Regions from separate parts of the Homo sapiens genome. Here region 2 is linked to region 1. The links come from fine-mapping of genetic effects on gene expression. A gene starts in region 1. The other region holds a variant in brackets. All regions are shown on one strand. Distances are from middle to middle.

Region 1 (8,294 bases):
TATGTGTCAACTTGACTGGGCAAAGGATAGCCAGATAGCTGGTAAAACATTACATCTTGGATGTGTCTGTGAGGGTATTTCTGGAAGAGATTCAGTAGACTGAGTAGGAAGATGCCCTTGTGCATCCCATTGAGGGCCTGAATAGAACAAAAAGACAATGGAAGGCCGGGTGCAGTGGGTCACATCTGTAATCCCAGCATTTTGGGAGGCTGAGGTGGGTGGATCACTTGAGGTCAGGAGTTCAAGACCAGCCTGGCCAACACAGTGAAACCCCTTGTCTACTAAAAATACAAAAATTAGCTGGGTGTGGTGGTGCATGCCTGTAGTCCCAGCTACTTGAGAGGCTGAGGCAGGAGAATCGCTTGAACCCAGGAGGTGGAGGCTGCAGTGAGCTGAGATCACACCACTACACTCCATCCTGGGCCGCAGAGAGAGACTCCATCTCAAAAACAAAACAAAACAAAACACCATTTAAAAAAACAAACAAACAAAAAACGGTGGAAGAGTGAAAAGATAAATTTGCTTTCTGCTTGAGCTGGGACATCTGTCTTCTCTTCCCCTCAGACTTCACTGCTCCTGGTTCTCAGGCCTTCAGACTTCGACCAAAACATCATTGACTCCCCTGGGTCTCAGGCCTTCAAGTTTGGACTAAAACAAATCCACTAGCTTTCCTGGGCCTTCAGCATGTAGATGGAAGATTGTCACTTAGTCTCCATAATTGTATAAGTCAGTGCCTCACAATAAATCTCTTTCTGTATTTCTATATATATCCTATTGGTTCTGTTCTCTGGAGAACCCTAACACACTGGGCATTTCATTAAGTGGAATATTATATAGTAATAAAAATGAAGTTACAAGCCTCATAGTTCGTGAATGTCGATTACACTCACAGGTTGAGTGAAAAAGCAGGTTGCAGAACAGTACGCAATGATGTTGATTTATATATGAAAAACAATGCTGTTTATTGTTTAGGGATACATGCATACGAAAAGCATGAAAATATGCATGGGAATTAACTACAAAGTTTAGGAAACTGCTTACTTCTCAGGGAGAGGAAGAAAAGGAATATGATTGGGGAGTGGTACAAAGGGAGCTTCAACTACATTCGTAATATTTCTTAAGCTGATTGCTGTTAACTCTTTTTCTAAGTCGAAATAGTTCATAAAAAGTGAAATTCTACATGTTTGAGGACTTTTATCCAGTCAATCATTACAGCACTCAGAGCCCCCACTGTATCTGAGCTGTTGTTGTAACAGGGCACCTTGAACCGTTCACCCAACAGGTAGGGCCTCTGCATATACTTGTTCAGGTTCTATGTTTACAAGAGTTCTTGGGTAAAGGGGTGGTAGAACCGAAGTCCAGCTTATCCATCAGTCAACAAGTCCTGTGTGCTCTGCACAAAGACACCAAGGCAAGTATCACTACGATAGGGTACTTTCTTCATGGCCCATAAGCTCCATGCCACATATGCAGAGGGGTTGCAGCCCAGTTCTATTTTTTATCTAGCCTGTGGATGCCGCAAATTTACTTACACACAACCAATGAAAACTTTAAGAGGAACCGATCTGTAGACAGAGACCCTATTATTTTTTGCTTGCCGTCAATTTTTATTTGGTTTATCTCAGTATCTTTCCAGTCCTTATGATTTATTTAAGAGCTGATCATTTTTCTCTAGTTATCTGAGATATTACCTTAATCACTGGTTTTTTGTTTTTTGTCTTTATACTTTCTTGGGACATCTTATCCAAGAGATGGAGACTAATTGACCAATGTATCTCTAATGCAAAGCATACAAAATGTACCAAATAAGAAATACAAACACTTCAATATATCTTATCTTTTCTGTTCCCTACCCAAGTCTTTTGTTCCTGATCTTTTATCTTCTTGGCTAAGCTGCAAATTTGAATCTTCCTTTCTTACATTTGTCATCTAATAGACAATAGGAATTTATTTTTTAGTAAAATCTGCATCTCCCCTTTTTTCAAAATATAAATCTCTCCTTTCACCTAAGTTTTCAGCCATAAGATTTTATTATTTGAAGACAAAGAATAAAGTTCTCCAAGTGTGGTTCATGAATCACCTGTGTCACTTTCACTTGCTGTGCAACAAAATGCTGGTTTCTGGGCCCCACTTAGGCCTACTAAATCATTCTGCATTTTTAATCAAGATTTGCATATAAGCCGGACTCCGTGGCTCATGACTGTAATCCCAGCACTTTGGGAGGCCAAGGCAGGTGGATCACTTGAGGTGAGGAGTTTGAGGCCAGCCTGGCCAACATGAGAAACCCCATCTCTACTAAAAAAAAAAAAAAAAAAAAAAAAAAAAAAGTAGCTAAACATGGTGGTGGGCACCTGTAATACCAGCTACTGGGGAGGCTGAGGCAGGAGAATCACTTGAACCCGGGAGGTGGAGGTTGCAGTGAGCCAAGATCACGCCACTGGACACAGTGAGTGAGAGTCCGTTTCAAAAAAAAAAAAAAAAAAGAAGAGATCTTAAAGAAACGATTACAGAAACTAACTTTACAATTTCTTCCTTATTTGTTCATGACAGTTGCTAGAAAATAATGGAAATGATTTAGACGATGAAAGCCTATTTAGGGAAGGCTCTAAGAGTACCAGATTAGGAGCCAGGAGCCCAGGAGCTGTTCCGTGATGATGTTGGGCAGAACACACTCTCTCTCGAGCCTCAGATTTCTTATCTATAAAACCAGAGTTTTCTGGGGGTCTTTAAGTTGTCTTTCAGCCCTGCAGTGAGAGGAGATATGTCATTCCTAAAACTTGAAATGAAGGCATATGTTTATTTATTAACTCTCTAGCTTCTAGACAGATTTACTGTATGTGACTTATGTGCCCAACCTGACATTATCTTTTAGATAAACTCCCAAATACAAAGATGATAAAATTTTTTCATTTTAAACTTATAGGTCTGCATCAACCTGTTTCCATTGTCCTAAGTTTTATTTACATACGATGGCTAGTCAACTTTATATGATAATTATCTTTAAATCCTGCTTTTTTTTTTTTTTTTTTTTTTTTTTTTTGAGACAGAGTTTTGCTCTTGTTGCCCAGGCTGGAATGCAATGGCGCGATCTCCAGCTCACCGCAACCTCCGCCTCCCGGGCTCAAGCAATTCGCCTGCCTCAGCCTCCCGAGTAGCTGGGATTACAGGCATCTGCCACCACACCCGGCTAATTTTGTATTTTTAGTAGAGACGGGGTTTCTTCATGTTGGTCAGGGTGGTCTAGAACTCCCAACCTCAGGTGATCCGCCCGCCGCAGCCTCCCAAAGTGTTGGGATTACAGGCGTGAGCCACCGCGCCCGGCCGAATCCTGCTTGTTTTAATGTATTCATTAAAAATGTCTCCATTATAGAGTAAAACGACTCAACGCCATGGCAGAGAGCAAGAAACGAAGTACCCTTAAAGCCGTAGTTGGTACAGGTAATGATTCCGTGGGGTCTATTAGGCCACAGGGACTCAAAATCCAGAAGAGGAGGGAATGCTGATAATTACCTAACACCAACGTTGCTGCTGGCTTCTCAGCCGTAGTCACCTCCCACTCAGATGTTTTGGAAATTGTCCAGTGTTCAGAAACATCACTTTCTCTGACCTTTTACAAAATTCCTGTGTTTCAGGATTTTAAAGTGCGTGAGAAAGGAGTCTAATTTGCAGTCACCAAAAACACCAAATACAGAGAGAGGACTGGGGAGAATGAATTGCTAAGACTTAGCTACCAAATGTGTATCAAGATAGGTGTAAAGATCCCAGGTGAAGTGAGGCACTGGAGAGGGTACACTTTTAACTTAGTGTATAGCTAAAACCCAAAGATGTGTGTCAGATCGAGGGAAACTTTTTTCCTCCTCTTCAAAATCTTTTTTCCGTTTGCAGAGCTCCAGACGTCCTCGCCCTTTGGAACAGCGGAGAGTCATTTAAAACTTAACTGAACGCTGGAGGGAAGTTCTACTTACCAGGTCATCCAATTTAGGAGATCCAATTTCTGCGGAGGGAACAAAAAGACGGGTGGGGGAGGGAAAAACTAGACCCCTTGTCCTACTATCCTTCTACCTTCAATCCACAACCTGCCAGACAAATCCAGCCAAGTCAAGATTTTGCCTTGAACCACCACCACCACCACCACCACCACCGCCGCCACCACCACCACCACCACCGCCGCCACCACCACAACCACCACCACCTTGTCACTCACGCCCGAGAAACACGCCCCTCTGGTCCTCCTCTTGGCCAATGGCGGCTCTCCTCTCTGCATAGTAATGAGCTCGAGACCTCCCCGGGCCAATGGCGCTCCGGGAGAAGGGATACTTTTGCATGTACCTAAGTGATTTGCATAAGCCAGCGGCCGGGGGTTTGGGAACCAGAGCGTGCAACCCTAGAAGGGAAAAGGACGGGAAGAGATTGAGCCGCGGCTGGGAGACAGCGAGCCAGAGTCTGGGTGTTTGTGCGAGAGCCACGGCGGGGGCTGGGGCGAGTGGCCGGCATGGCTGAAGGCTGCGCTCTGCAACCTTGAAGAGCCGCTGCATTGAGAGGCCAGGGACAGGGAGACCGGTGCGATGGCAGAGCGCGGCCCCCGCCGCTGCGCCGGGCCGGCCCGGCTGGCGTGAGCCGCCGGAGGAGCGGGGCTGCCTCTGCGCGTCCATGGAGCAGCGGGAAGGGCGAAACTCCGGAGCGCCGCGTCCCTGCGCCGCTGCGGCGGACTGCTGAAGGGGCCGAGCCCGCGCGGACCGCCGAGGAAGAGACCCCCGCTCCAGCCCGCAGGCCGGCTGCCCGGGGGCGGCGGGGGACATCGGAGGGCAGCGGAGCGAGCAGCGCCGCGGGAGAGGCCGGCGCGGGAGGCGGCCGCAGCAATGCCGGGCCCGCTAGGGCTGCTCTGCTTCCTCGCCCTGGGGCTGCTCGGCTCGGCCGGGCCCAGCGGCGCGGCGCCGCCTCTCTGCGCGGCGCCCTGCAGCTGCGACGGCGACCGTCGGGTGGACTGCTCCGGGAAGGGGCTGACGGCCGTGCCCGAGGGGCTCAGCGCCTTCACCCAAGCGCTGTGAGTGCGGGCGGCGGGGACGCGAGGGGGGGGGAGGAAACGGGGCCCAGCGGGGGGCGCCGCGGGGCGGAGCCAGGGGTCAGTCCCACCCCACCCCGCCCCGCCGCCGCCCGGGCCTGGGGAGGGGGTCCGCCGGTCACCTGCGTGCGGGCTGCCTGGCACCCACTCCTGTGCCACGGGCTTTCCGCACTTTGCTAGTCCGGGTTCGAGCCAGCAGTAGCTTTCGTTCCCAGACTTTTTGGGCACAAGCACCCTCCCACCCCACCGCGCACACCCCCAACTCACAAGTGCATCTGGGGCCAAGAAGGAGGAAGTAATCTAAAAACGCTTGCCCCTGGCAGCCTGTCCACGCGACCTTCCCTTCTCATGAGGGCCCTCGCTCAGCGGGCAGGAGTTCCGCTACTGGCGGGGCTGAGGGCGCCGAGAACTTGGCCTCAGTCTGCATACCGAGGCATGTCTCGTGGGGAAGCACCTGGAGCCTCCTGGGTTCCAGCATGTGGGGAGAAGAAACACCTGTACCTCAGTCAGGGCGAATCTCCTTCCAATTTGGCCCCATCCAGGTAGTGCGTCCCGGCACCTACCTCGGCCCAGTTCCACTCGGGACTACCCCACTAACGCCCAGGCTTCTGCAGCACGCAGGGGAGTCCGAGAAAACAAGGGAGAATTACAGGGTTCTGTTGGTGGACATGCTCTTACCCAACAAGGCCTTTTAAAGAAGGAATGCTGACCTGAGGTGCAGGATGTTGGAAGAGAAGCAAGTTCCGGAGCATATGCTCAGCCCAGGCTGCAAGGTAGCAGCAGGTTTCTAATGCACCTTCACGCAGCCAGCAGATCTTTTCTTTTGAGCTGCCTGAGATCGAGAGACACACTGAAATGTTTCAGACTTACAAAATCGCCCTGCCAAAACGGACTTGAGAGCTTTAGACGTTCCCTTGAGAAAAGAAGAGGAATCTGAACTAGGTTGTGGAGGTGGTGGCAAAGGCCACGGATAGAGGAGGAACAGGGTAGGGTTTTTGTGTTCTTATTGCTTCTTGCGTTGCGTGGCCAGCTGAATGCTTAAATCAGGAGCAGTCGAAGAAACGTGTGAGAGAGGAAGGGATCCTGAGGGGCCCTAGGGTAGAGGGAATTTCCTTTTACCTGTAGTGGAAGGGACCTCTTAGAAATAGACAGTTTTAAAGGACCCTGTGAAGAAATCTTTATGCAGGCAGGAGCATTGCTGTATTTCCAGGTGGGTGGTGGCAAAGGTGTTCCGCTTGCCCTCTCAGGATGGACTTTTAGTGAGCATCGAGGCCTGTTGTCTTGGAACCTGTTTCATTCTTCTACCTTCAGCCTTCCCCTCCCCATTTGTTATTTTTCCTGTCTCAGGTTAGTTTTAGTTATGTATTTGAGGTTTTTTTTTTTTTTCAGTATAGTGAAGTTTAACTTGTCATTAAAAAAAAAAGTTAACTTTGCAGTGAAGAGCATTTTGTTCATAAAGTTACATTAAGTGGGAAAGTTTGAGCAGGAATTGATTGAATCAAGAGAAAGAAGACCTGTGGAGAGGAAATGGGACTAATTTTTCCCCAAGTTCTCTAGAAACGTTTAGGGAATTCGTGCAGAAAGAAATGCAGAAAGAAAGGTCCCTTTACCTGAACCTCTTGCAAGGCTCTGCATAGAATAGAAAAGCACAATTTTACTATTTTGACCAGTAGTAAAGACCTTGTTTAGCAGATTCCTCACATTTTAGTGAGTAGACTTGTCCTATAAGGAAACGGGCTGTTTTACATTAGTATCTAAAACCACAGAGAAATAATCACACTTTTATGAGAGCATACTCCTCTCTCCAAAGCATCTTCTGGTAGAACTCACTGAAGGTGGTGAAATGCTGTATCTTCAACTTTGGGCCTTAGAATAAGTTAGTGTTCATGGCTTAGGAAACAGAAAAATAATTGGTACCAGTCTCAATTAGAGTGCCTAAACTAGCATTATCTTAGCACTTTCTGAGCTTTGGTGGTGTGCAAATGTGTTTTATTTTCTTAGATTTGTGACCTGTAGGTAGAGTGATCGTACATTCTGGTGACTCCTTATTTCTCCTTAGTACTCATTTCACCCTCAAAAATATATATAACCACCCTCTCTAAAAGGGTTTTCAAGGACAGCATATTTGCATTTTACTCATGGGGAAACTAGCTCATTCAGTGATTCTCAAAAGCAATGTATGAAGCAAGGCCAGTGCTGCAGGTTTGCACACTCCAGTCGATCATATATGGGACATGTTGCGATCACCTAGGGTCTTTTTCCAAGTACTTCCAGTCTGCTCTCCCATCGCAGCTTTACTGAGATACAGTTACACATCAGGAGACTAGTTCCGTGGTCTCTAAGCGTTTGTTCACCTATTCTTAATTGCTGGAGCATGTGAACCAAAAACCTCTGTAGTTATACAGAAAATTACAATCATGAAAGTAGAAGTTAAAAAGATGAAACTATAATTACTAATCAGAGTTCTTCATTTTCTTCTCATTGCTCAATGGCTTGTCCTGGAGTAGTGCTTTCACCTTCCCTGGGGACAGGGGTGGGGGGTGCATTTCACTTTAAAGATCCTGGGACTGACAGGGCAGTGATTTTATTTTACTCAACTTGGGATCCCCAGAGCCCGGTACATAGGAGGCACTTAAAAATGCTGGAGTGAATAAATAAGGATGCAAGGCCACACCGAGGAGCAGAACCGTGGCATGGAATTCAGACACCATTCCCACAGGGGATTTTCAGATTCATTCTCAGCACTTAGCCTTTTGTCCAGATTTGAGAAGGTCCCAGAGAGAGAATACCTGCTTCTTCTCCTTGAGGCTGGTTGAAACTTGTTCAGTCTAACAGTGTCTATTTCCTGGTGAAAGCCGCTTTACCGGAGTCTGGGGACAGCGTCAGATGTGATCCTCAGTACTGTGAATGGGATTCCTGTATTCACACCATTTGCTGCACCTGTAGCAACTATTTATGTTTTTGAACAACAGTATTCAATCTTGTGTCACAATGCACTGGCCTGTCACAATTCACCCCGAGGAGTGTTCAAGGCAGTAATCTTACTAATATTAAAATTCCGAAGTTTAATCAGAAGGATTCAAGGTTATTACTGTATTTGTGCTAATAACTCAATCACCTACATTCCAAGATTGGGAGAAGAGATGAAGTCATGGGGAGGGGAATGTGTATGTGAGTCCTCTGGTTTGTGTGTTATTGCTACGGTGTTTGAGAAACGTAGACCTCGAGCACA
Region 2 (8,335 bases), 260 kb after region 1:
TAACCACTTTGGGGTACAAAAAAACTATTCAAATTTATTCACTTATTTATAAATGTATCTGGTCATTTCACAGTAATGATAGAGCCCCCGCCAAGCTGCAGGCATTGTAGATATAGAAATGCCTGGGTAGCTTGGACCCTGTCCTGTGCAGCTTCAAGTCAAGGGTGGGAGGTGGACAGAGAACCTGTAGTTGAAATACCCAGTTTATGTGCTGAGTGCTGGGAAGGGGAAGCACAGGGTGATGGGGTAGCACACACAGAAGGGGCAGCTGACCCTGACCAAGAATCCTGGAGGATGGATAGGAGGGAGCCCAAGGGAAAGTGAGGTTAGGTGGAGTAGGCGAATGCATAGGAAGAGACATTGACATTTGAGAAGGCTGGAGGTGAAAAACAATGCATATTTTGCATTAAATATAAAGGAGGTTCATGTGGCTGGATTGCGAAAGGAACAATAATCTCTAGTTGTTAGGAGTCCAAGCTCTGGATCCAGTCGGCCTGGGTTAGAATCTTTGTTGGGCCGCTTATTACTGTGTGTCCTTGGTGAAGCTATTAATGCTTCTGCAACTCAGTTCTCTTATCTGAAAAATGGAGAGGATGAAAATAATAGTACCTACTTCATAGGTTGCGGCAAAAATGAAAATGAGCAAATATGCATGAAGTACTAGAACCATAGCTGGCATGCAGTAAGTAAGGGCTTTAGAAGCGTCACCTATGATTAGGTGAGGAGTAGGGGACAGGAGGCTTGGACAAGCAAGGAAGTTAGTTCCATACACCTGTAATGCCTGTGGGCCAGGCATTAGCAAACCAAGCAGAATCAGAAAGACCCAGCTGCTGACTGCAGGGAACTTGCAGTATTGACTTGTTAAAAACTTGGACCTTGGAATCAGAGAGACCTGCCTTCCAACCTGTCTCATCTGTGTAGTCATAGGCAGATTATTTGCTGTCTTTGAGCCTTCTTTTCATCGGTAAAATGGGCATAATGATAGTATATTCTTTATAGAGTTGGGGTGAGGATTGGTGAGACCATATGTGTGTGTGTGTGTGTGTGTGTGTGTAGTCTCTCTGTATATAAAAACACATATAATGTGAATATATATATGTGTATATATAAAATAGTGCTAGCAAAATAGTAGCTATTATGCCAATCAGGGTAGGAGATGACAGGGAAATAACCATAATACAGGGAGAATATTTTATAATAATCAGGATGGTGACGCCCTTAGACACGGTGGCTACAGGCTCTCAGTGGTTTCCCATAGCTCTAAAATAAAGATGTACTTAGCTCACTGGCTTCATCTATCTTCATTTTCTCTGCTCTCTCTACTTCATCTACCCCGCTTTGTACTACACTGCCTAGACGTTCCTGCTCCCCAGACCTACAGATTCCAGGTGAAACATCATTCACTAGCAGAAGCTTTTCTTGAACCCCAGATGGGGTCAAGTTTATGTCCCCCACTAGATACTCTCACAGTATCCTTTATTTTGATTAGTGTCTGTTGTCCATCTAGACTATAAGCTTCATAAAGTCAGGGGTCATATCTTTTTTACTTATTATTGTCTCTCCATCAATTATTATGGTCCCCATATTAAGAAACCAATAAATATTTACTAAATACGTAAACACAAATGCAGCCAAGATCGAACTTTTATAAAGGGAGAAGCTGGAACCTGCTCCACTTCCACTCAGAGAACACAATTTTCCAGGGCCCTCTGCAGATTCCAAGACCCCATTTCTTTGCCTGAACAGCAGTGTAACTGATATGTCACACTGTAATGAACCAGAGGGCTGATTAAGAGCTTATGTAAATGTTGGGACTTTTGGCAGCATTCATTTCCCTCTGATTTTGGCATGACTCAAAGCATGGGAATTTTTCAAAAGAGAGAGCTTTCAGAAAATACCCACACCCAACGGTGGAAACCTTAGAAGAACACAGTGCAGAGGAACGTTCCTCAGCGAGGGATTAAGGGACTCTCAGCAGGTTTTCAAAGGCATATGGAGACAAGATGTCAGTGTGAGCTTGTTTCTCTGACAGAATCTGAAACGCTTTTAACCAGCAAGTTACCAAGAGGCTTTTAAGTGAAGAGGCTAATGTTGTAGGTTTATAAATAAATGGATGTTTGTGGTGACTTCTTTGTGGTTCATGTGACAGGGAGAACATCAGGGAGGGGAGATTATGTCTTGTATTAACAGGTAAATTGCTTTTTCTGCCTCTTGGTTAAGTGAGCAGGAGGACAGAGTGCCCTGGGTAAGGAATTGGGAGACCCCCCTTTTCTTTTCAACTGATCCTGGCTTTCCCTGTGATAAGCAGTGTGACCATGGACAAGATATTAACCGTCCTCTGCCTCAGTTTCCTCATCTGCCCAATGAAATTTATAATGCCTTGTCAAATTTTTATAAAATTAACTTGTAATACTGGTAGCTAAAACTTACTGAGCACTTAATATATGTCAGCCCCATATGAACTCGGTCAATCTTCACAACCACCCGTGAGATAGGTTACTACTATTGCCCCTACTTTACAGAAGAGAAAACTGAGGCACAGACACTCTAAATACCTTGTCCAATGTCACAAAGCTGGTAAGTAGTGGCACTGGGATTTGAACCTAGGCTACCTGGCTCTGGAACCAGATTTAATGACTGTGCTCTATGCTACTGCCTTTCTAAGTAGAGAGGGCCTTCTTAAAGGCCTTAAGAAGAATAAAGCCCGCTGGCTGGTTGGCTGGGCAGGATCTCAACAGAAAGTCTGCAGAGGAAAGGAGAAGACAGAGTGTCTACCAAGGGGAGATGTTATGGGTAATCATCTCTAGAAGGGGAGTTTTACCTTTTTATGGCTAGTATGGGAGAATGAGAGTTCTTAGACCTTGGGCTTGGAGACAGATATGGGCTTGAATCCATGTTTGGTCACTTAATATGTAACTTTTGGGGTAAATTACTAATCTGATCTGAGTTTCACAGCTCACCTTAAAGACAGAGCTATCAAGGTTACAGGATGTTGTGTGGATTATGTGAGAACATGTCAGGCATATGGTGCTCAACGAGTTTCTCCCTTCCCCTTTTTAACATGGTCCCCCCAAAATGAATTTATCTGGTGTCAATCACACTTTGAAACTGGTTTGGGATATGTTTATTCTCTGGGCTGCATTTTACATTGATAGTGTTTTTTCGGGTCAGGGTAATTGATAGGTTTTTGGGGTTCACTCCCACACTCACATTTGCCTACCAATGGGCAATTTTCTTGTCCTTTGGTGTGAGGCACATAGCCATTTCAGAGGAGGTTTTAGCCTTGTTGAGGATAAGGTCTCAGCCCCATCCCAGTGATGAACTGGAAATGGACAGGAAACATAAGGACACTGGATTCCATACACTTTTCCTGGGTACCATTTCTGTGCTGGACCCAGGGGTGTTGGTTGTTCAACCAGGAAGCCAGCTGGCTAGTTGGCTGTGGTCTCAGCTGAGAGGAACTTGAAGACATGACGAGAACTTCCTATCAAGGAAGTGGGGAGCCAGGAGAGTCAGCAGACAAAC[C/T]CATGCCAGAGTCTATGAGGGCTGCTTGGACTCATACTCCAGAGAGTCCAGAGGCAAAGTCCAGTAAGGTCGGGAGAGATGGGGATTACACATAAAATCTTAAAAGCTGGATTGCATCTGGAAAAGGCCACAGTGCAAGTTCTGGATACGTCCAGGTAAATAGGTACAATCTGGATTTAAGGAAAAGAGCGTACATTGTGTGTGCGAGTGCCAGGTGATTTCAAATTAGGTGTCATATTAGGCATTGAAAGATAGCCAGATAAATCCTAGCATTCCCTGGCAACACCACAAGGGGGCAGACATTCAGGTGGGAGGGTTATGTTATAACAGGAAGAAACATTGATTTTGGTTCTTAGTCCCTTCTTAGCTCGTAATAATAGCAGTTGCATGTATTGAACACTTACTATGGGTCACAGACTGTGAGCATGCAATCTCCTTTAATCTCCGCAGCAAACGTATAATATTAAGACCTATTTTTCCATCTTTTTTTTTTCTTTCTTTGAGACAAGGTCTCACTCTGTTGAACAGGCTGAATGCAGTAGTGCGATCATAGCTCACTATAGCCTCGAACTCCTAGGCTCAAGTGATCCTCTTGCCTCAGCCTCCTCAGTATCTGGGACTACAGGAACATGCCAACACATCTGACTAACTTTTAGTTTTTTCAGTAGAGATGAGGTTTCACTACGTTACCTGTGCTGATCTGAAACTCCTGGGCTTAAGTGATCCCCTGCCTGGGCTTCCCAAAGTGTTGGGATTATAGGTTTGAGCCACTGTGGCCAGCCAGATTCTCTTTTATTGGACAGGAAACTATAAGCCTTGGTCCATATCCACAAGGTATTGATGTTGCCGTGACCACAGAATGATAGAATATCAGAAACATCCCTCTGATCAGTCCTGTCCTCATCTTCTCTACCAAGTCTAGGCCAAGTCTGGGGGCCTGAAGGCCAGTTTTGGGATTTGCTCCGTTGTAGAAGGCTGTAGAAGGTGGCCCATCTACTCACTCACTCGCTATATGTTAGTTGAGGTGCCCACTATGTGTCAGAGAATGTTCTTGACATAGGTGACGAGATAGACCCTGCTCTTACAGACCTTGCAGTCACAGGAGTGACCAAATTACCAGTGTGATAAACTCTTTTGTTAAGGAAGGTAGCAGGTGTTATAGGGACTCATAAACGGAGCACCACTTAAATAAATAAGAGGAGACTTCCTGAAAGAAGTAACAACTAAACTACATACACGGAGTCAAGCTCTGCATGAAAGGTGCCATCAAGGCTTAACATTCAAAGGGCATGGTCATATTCACTGTATACACTGGCATGGAGCAGAAATTTAAAACAAAAATGAAAAAGTATAATTAAAAACCTAGGCTTAAAATTAAAAAAAAAAATATATATATATATAAAAAACAGAACCCTTGTCTGCCATCTCTCTCACCCTCAGCACTGTGCAAACCCATCTGGGTACTGTTCAGTTCTTTGAATGCTGCTTGACACGGACAAACAAGAGGGCATTAAAAGGGGAGGTCACAGCTGGGCGCGGTGGCTCATGCCTGTAATCCCAGCACTTTGGGAGGCCAAGGCGTGTGGATCACATGAGGTCAGGAGTTCGAGACCAGCCTGACCAACATGGCAAAACCCTGTCTCTACTAAAAATACAAAAATTAGCCGGGCCTGGTGGTGGGTGCTTTTAATCCCAGCTACTTGGGAGGCTGAGGCAGGAGAATCACTTGAACCTGGGAGGTAGAGGTTGCAGTGAGCTGAGATCACGCCACTGCATTCCAGCCTGGTCGACAAGAGCAAAACTCAATCTCATTAAAAAAAAAAAAAAAAAGGAGTTCACCAAGAAGTGGAGAGATTTGAAGCATTATAATGCAAGAAATTGGTTGCATTTTGAAGGGTACACAGTGAGGTAGAGGCATAGCAAGGGGAAGCCTCACTTCTTGTCTGGGCTACAGTAGCCCTCCATCTTCCTCCTCTTTACACACACTCCAGATGAAATACCCTATATGATGACTCAGAGTCATTAATAACATGACCACTTGTGCAGCCCAAAGATTAGACAGCCAAAGCCAAGAGTCTGTTGTGTTGAAGTGGCTCTGGGTGGGAAGCATTCTCCCCAGAGACTGGGGCAGGGTATGACTTGCCAGGGGAGGGTTTGCAGAATGTTTAGACTGTGACTCATGAAGGTCTTAGATGAATAAATAGCTCTCTTTCTGCTGTGACTGTTGACAGGGCTGGTGACAGCTTACCTTTGCAGTTGCCAAGGAGAATCTCACTCTGATTTTTGACAAGTTCAATTTTCCTAACCAGCTGGGGTCTCCAGAATGGCCACCATGAATAAAGGCCTGGCCAAATATAAAGGGCAATGAAGCAATAGGTAATATTTGGAGGTATGAAATCTGAAGTGCAAACATCTCCTCCCAGCCAAGGAAGAGTCATCATTGGGAAGGGAAGATTAAAGGAAGAAAGTTTTCTGCTTTCTGGATTGGGAAAACAATATCTTGCATCTTTGTGTGGCTAGTTGGCCATTTTATTAATAGTCTTAGAGCTTCATAATCCTGGTGAGAAGAAAGATAGTCCTCTTTCTGGAAACATCTATATAATTTAAAATCTATTTGGCTATAAGTAATAAAACCCTGACGGATAGTGGCCCACACCATATCACTTTGATTATCTCACATAATAGGAAGTCTGGAGATAAGTAGTCTAAAGTGAGAACAGCAGTTCCACAGTATTATTGAGTTGACGGGCACTTTTTCATCTCTATATTTATGTAGGTCATTGATTCTTCTGCCTGTTTCTCATGGTTTCAAGATGGCTGCCGTGTCTCCAGATATTACAACAGTATTCAAAAGTAGACAGGTGACAAGGAGTGGGAGTGTGGAGTGGCAAAAGATCCTTTTCTTGGAATGACTATGTCATTTTATCAGTGAGGAAACAAAAGTATCCCAGAAGCCCTCCCAGCTGATTCACTCTTATACCTAAATGACCACAATATTATTGACCAGAACTGGGTCCCATGACTGCCCTTAGATGCAAGGGAGCCTGGAAAAGTGAGTGTCTGGCAAATGTTAATGAAATAGTCATGACTGACTTAGGTCAATCACGATTTAACCCCCACCAACCCAGGGCTGGCACTTTTCTGTCTTGAATAAAGCTAATGTTTTGTTGGTAAGGAAGAAGGTTGTTGGGGATGGGGCCTGTTTCTACCGCATGCCTTTGGAAAGCTAGTCCAACATTATAGTATGATAATACATCATTAGTACAAAATAAAAAACTAGAAATAGAGGTGTGAATTTGCAGGATTTTCAAGGCATGAAGGTCTTTGAGAGTGTGATGGACCCCAAAGACTGTCAGTATGTGCTAATAGAAGATTGCAGAGAAAAATAACAAGTCACTTAACACACCCATTGTCGTACTCACCCTTTAAGGCCCAAGCCAACTTTGCCTGCTTGTGAATCTTCCCATCCCTTGCAGGTAGAGCTAGCCCGTCCCTCCTCCTTGCTCCCATTGCACTTTTCACATACCTTGATTATACGAATCACCAGCTTGAATTCAGAATCAACAGGTATTTATTGTGTTCCTATTCTGTCCTGGCCCCATGCTTGGTATCTCTCTATGTCAGTTTAGAGTAGACCTTCCATGGCTTCCCCTTGTAATGAGGTAATGGACATTCAGGGATAGTAAACTCAAGTGAATTTTAAACTTAGCTCGTAAGGCCCTTTGTAGCCACTCTGGTTTACTTCTCTTATCTCAACTATCCTGACCACCATCTCTTTAAAACCTGTGTTTCATCCATTCTCTTGACTCATGGAAGCTATCCATTTCTTCTCTCCCTGCTATTCCTTCTACAAAAAAACAATATTCTTTTCTTCTATGCTTGGTCAGTTTTCACTTATCTTTCACACCTTATTTTAGATGTCATTTCCTGGAAATGAGCTAGGTAGGACTGAGCTAGGTAGCCTTTGTCTGTGATCTGTCTTGCCATCTTAGTCTGCTTGCATTGCTATCAAAGAATAACCAAGGCTGGGTAATTTATAAAGAAAAGAGGTTTATTTGGCTTATGGTTCTGCAGGCTGTACAAGAAGCATGGTACCAGCATCTGCTTCTGGTGAGAGCTTCAGGGAGCTTCCAATCATGGAGGAAAGGGAAGGGAAGATGGCTGTGCAGAGATCACATGGTGAGAAAGGAAGCAAGAGAGAGAGGTGAGAGGTGCCAGGGTCTTTTTTAGAAACCAGCTCTTGTGGGAATGAATAAAGCAAGATCTCATTTATTACCATGAGGAGTGGACCAAGCCATTGAGAGGGATCTGTTCCCATGACCCAAACACTTCCCATTAGACCCCACCTCCAACACTGGGGATCACATTTCAGCATGAGGTTTGGAGAGGTCAAACAAACCACAGAACCTGCCCTGCATATCATAATTCTAGTCACTGTAATGTAAGTCCCTGAGTTTCCCAGTGGTGGGACTGAGGTGCATTCATCCCTTCATTGCCAATGCATGGTACAGTGTCTGATCCATCCTGGGGGATATTTGTTGAATGGCTGAGTGACAAAGCTTTTCATCAAATATTTAGTGCCAGATTATGCGTCAGAGCCCAAAGTTGTAGCCCTGGCTCAGAGGAGGAGGTTCCTGAGCACTCAGTGGGGCTGCAGTTGAGTAAACACTGGGCTTGTTGCCTTGTCATGGTGTGACCACAGAAAAAGCACATTCTATCTCTAGGCATAAGCATTATTCTTCTGGGGGAGAAAAAAGAGGAATTAGTTTTCAACTTTTTTTAAAAAAACAGGAAAAGTCCCCTTTGTTTT

Direction of the effects. Positions count from the first base shown, and alleles are read on the strand shown. Sizes are in standard deviations (SD) of each study's normalised expression.
With allele T in place of C in region 2, the expression in fibroblasts of the gene that starts at base 4,372 in region 1 is higher (small effect, 0.24 SD a copy in GTEx).

The links. PIP is the estimated chance that this variant, and not a neighbour inherited with it, causes the effect. A credible set is the group of variants that fine-mapping cannot tell apart.
Region 2: its variant is the best candidate, but not a certain one, in a credible set for the expression of LGR4 in fibroblasts (GTEx, PIP 0.54).

The regions. Positions count from the first base shown.
Region 1 is chr11:27,468,868-27,477,161 of GRCh38, reverse strand. LGR4 (leucine rich repeat containing G protein-coupled receptor 4) reads left to right here and starts at 4,372. Exons shown (of 18, transcript NM_018490.5): 1 at 4,372-5,044. The coding sequence starts at 4,860. LGR4-AS1 (LGR4 antisense RNA 1) reads right to left here and starts at 5,431. Exons shown (of 4, transcript NR_131170.1): 1 at 5,330-5,431; 2 at 4,205-4,384; 3 at 3,966-3,994. RefSeq lists silencers at 4,599-4,648, 4,779-4,948, 5,199-5,258.
Region 2 is chr11:27,207,059-27,215,393 of GRCh38, reverse strand. All of the region lies in intron 2 of BBOX1-AS1 (BBOX1 antisense RNA 1), which reads left to right. Among named protein-coding and RNA genes, the nearest start is that of BBOX1-AS1, 7.5 kb to the left of the region's middle. The variant C/T (reference allele first, on the strand shown) is at 3,526.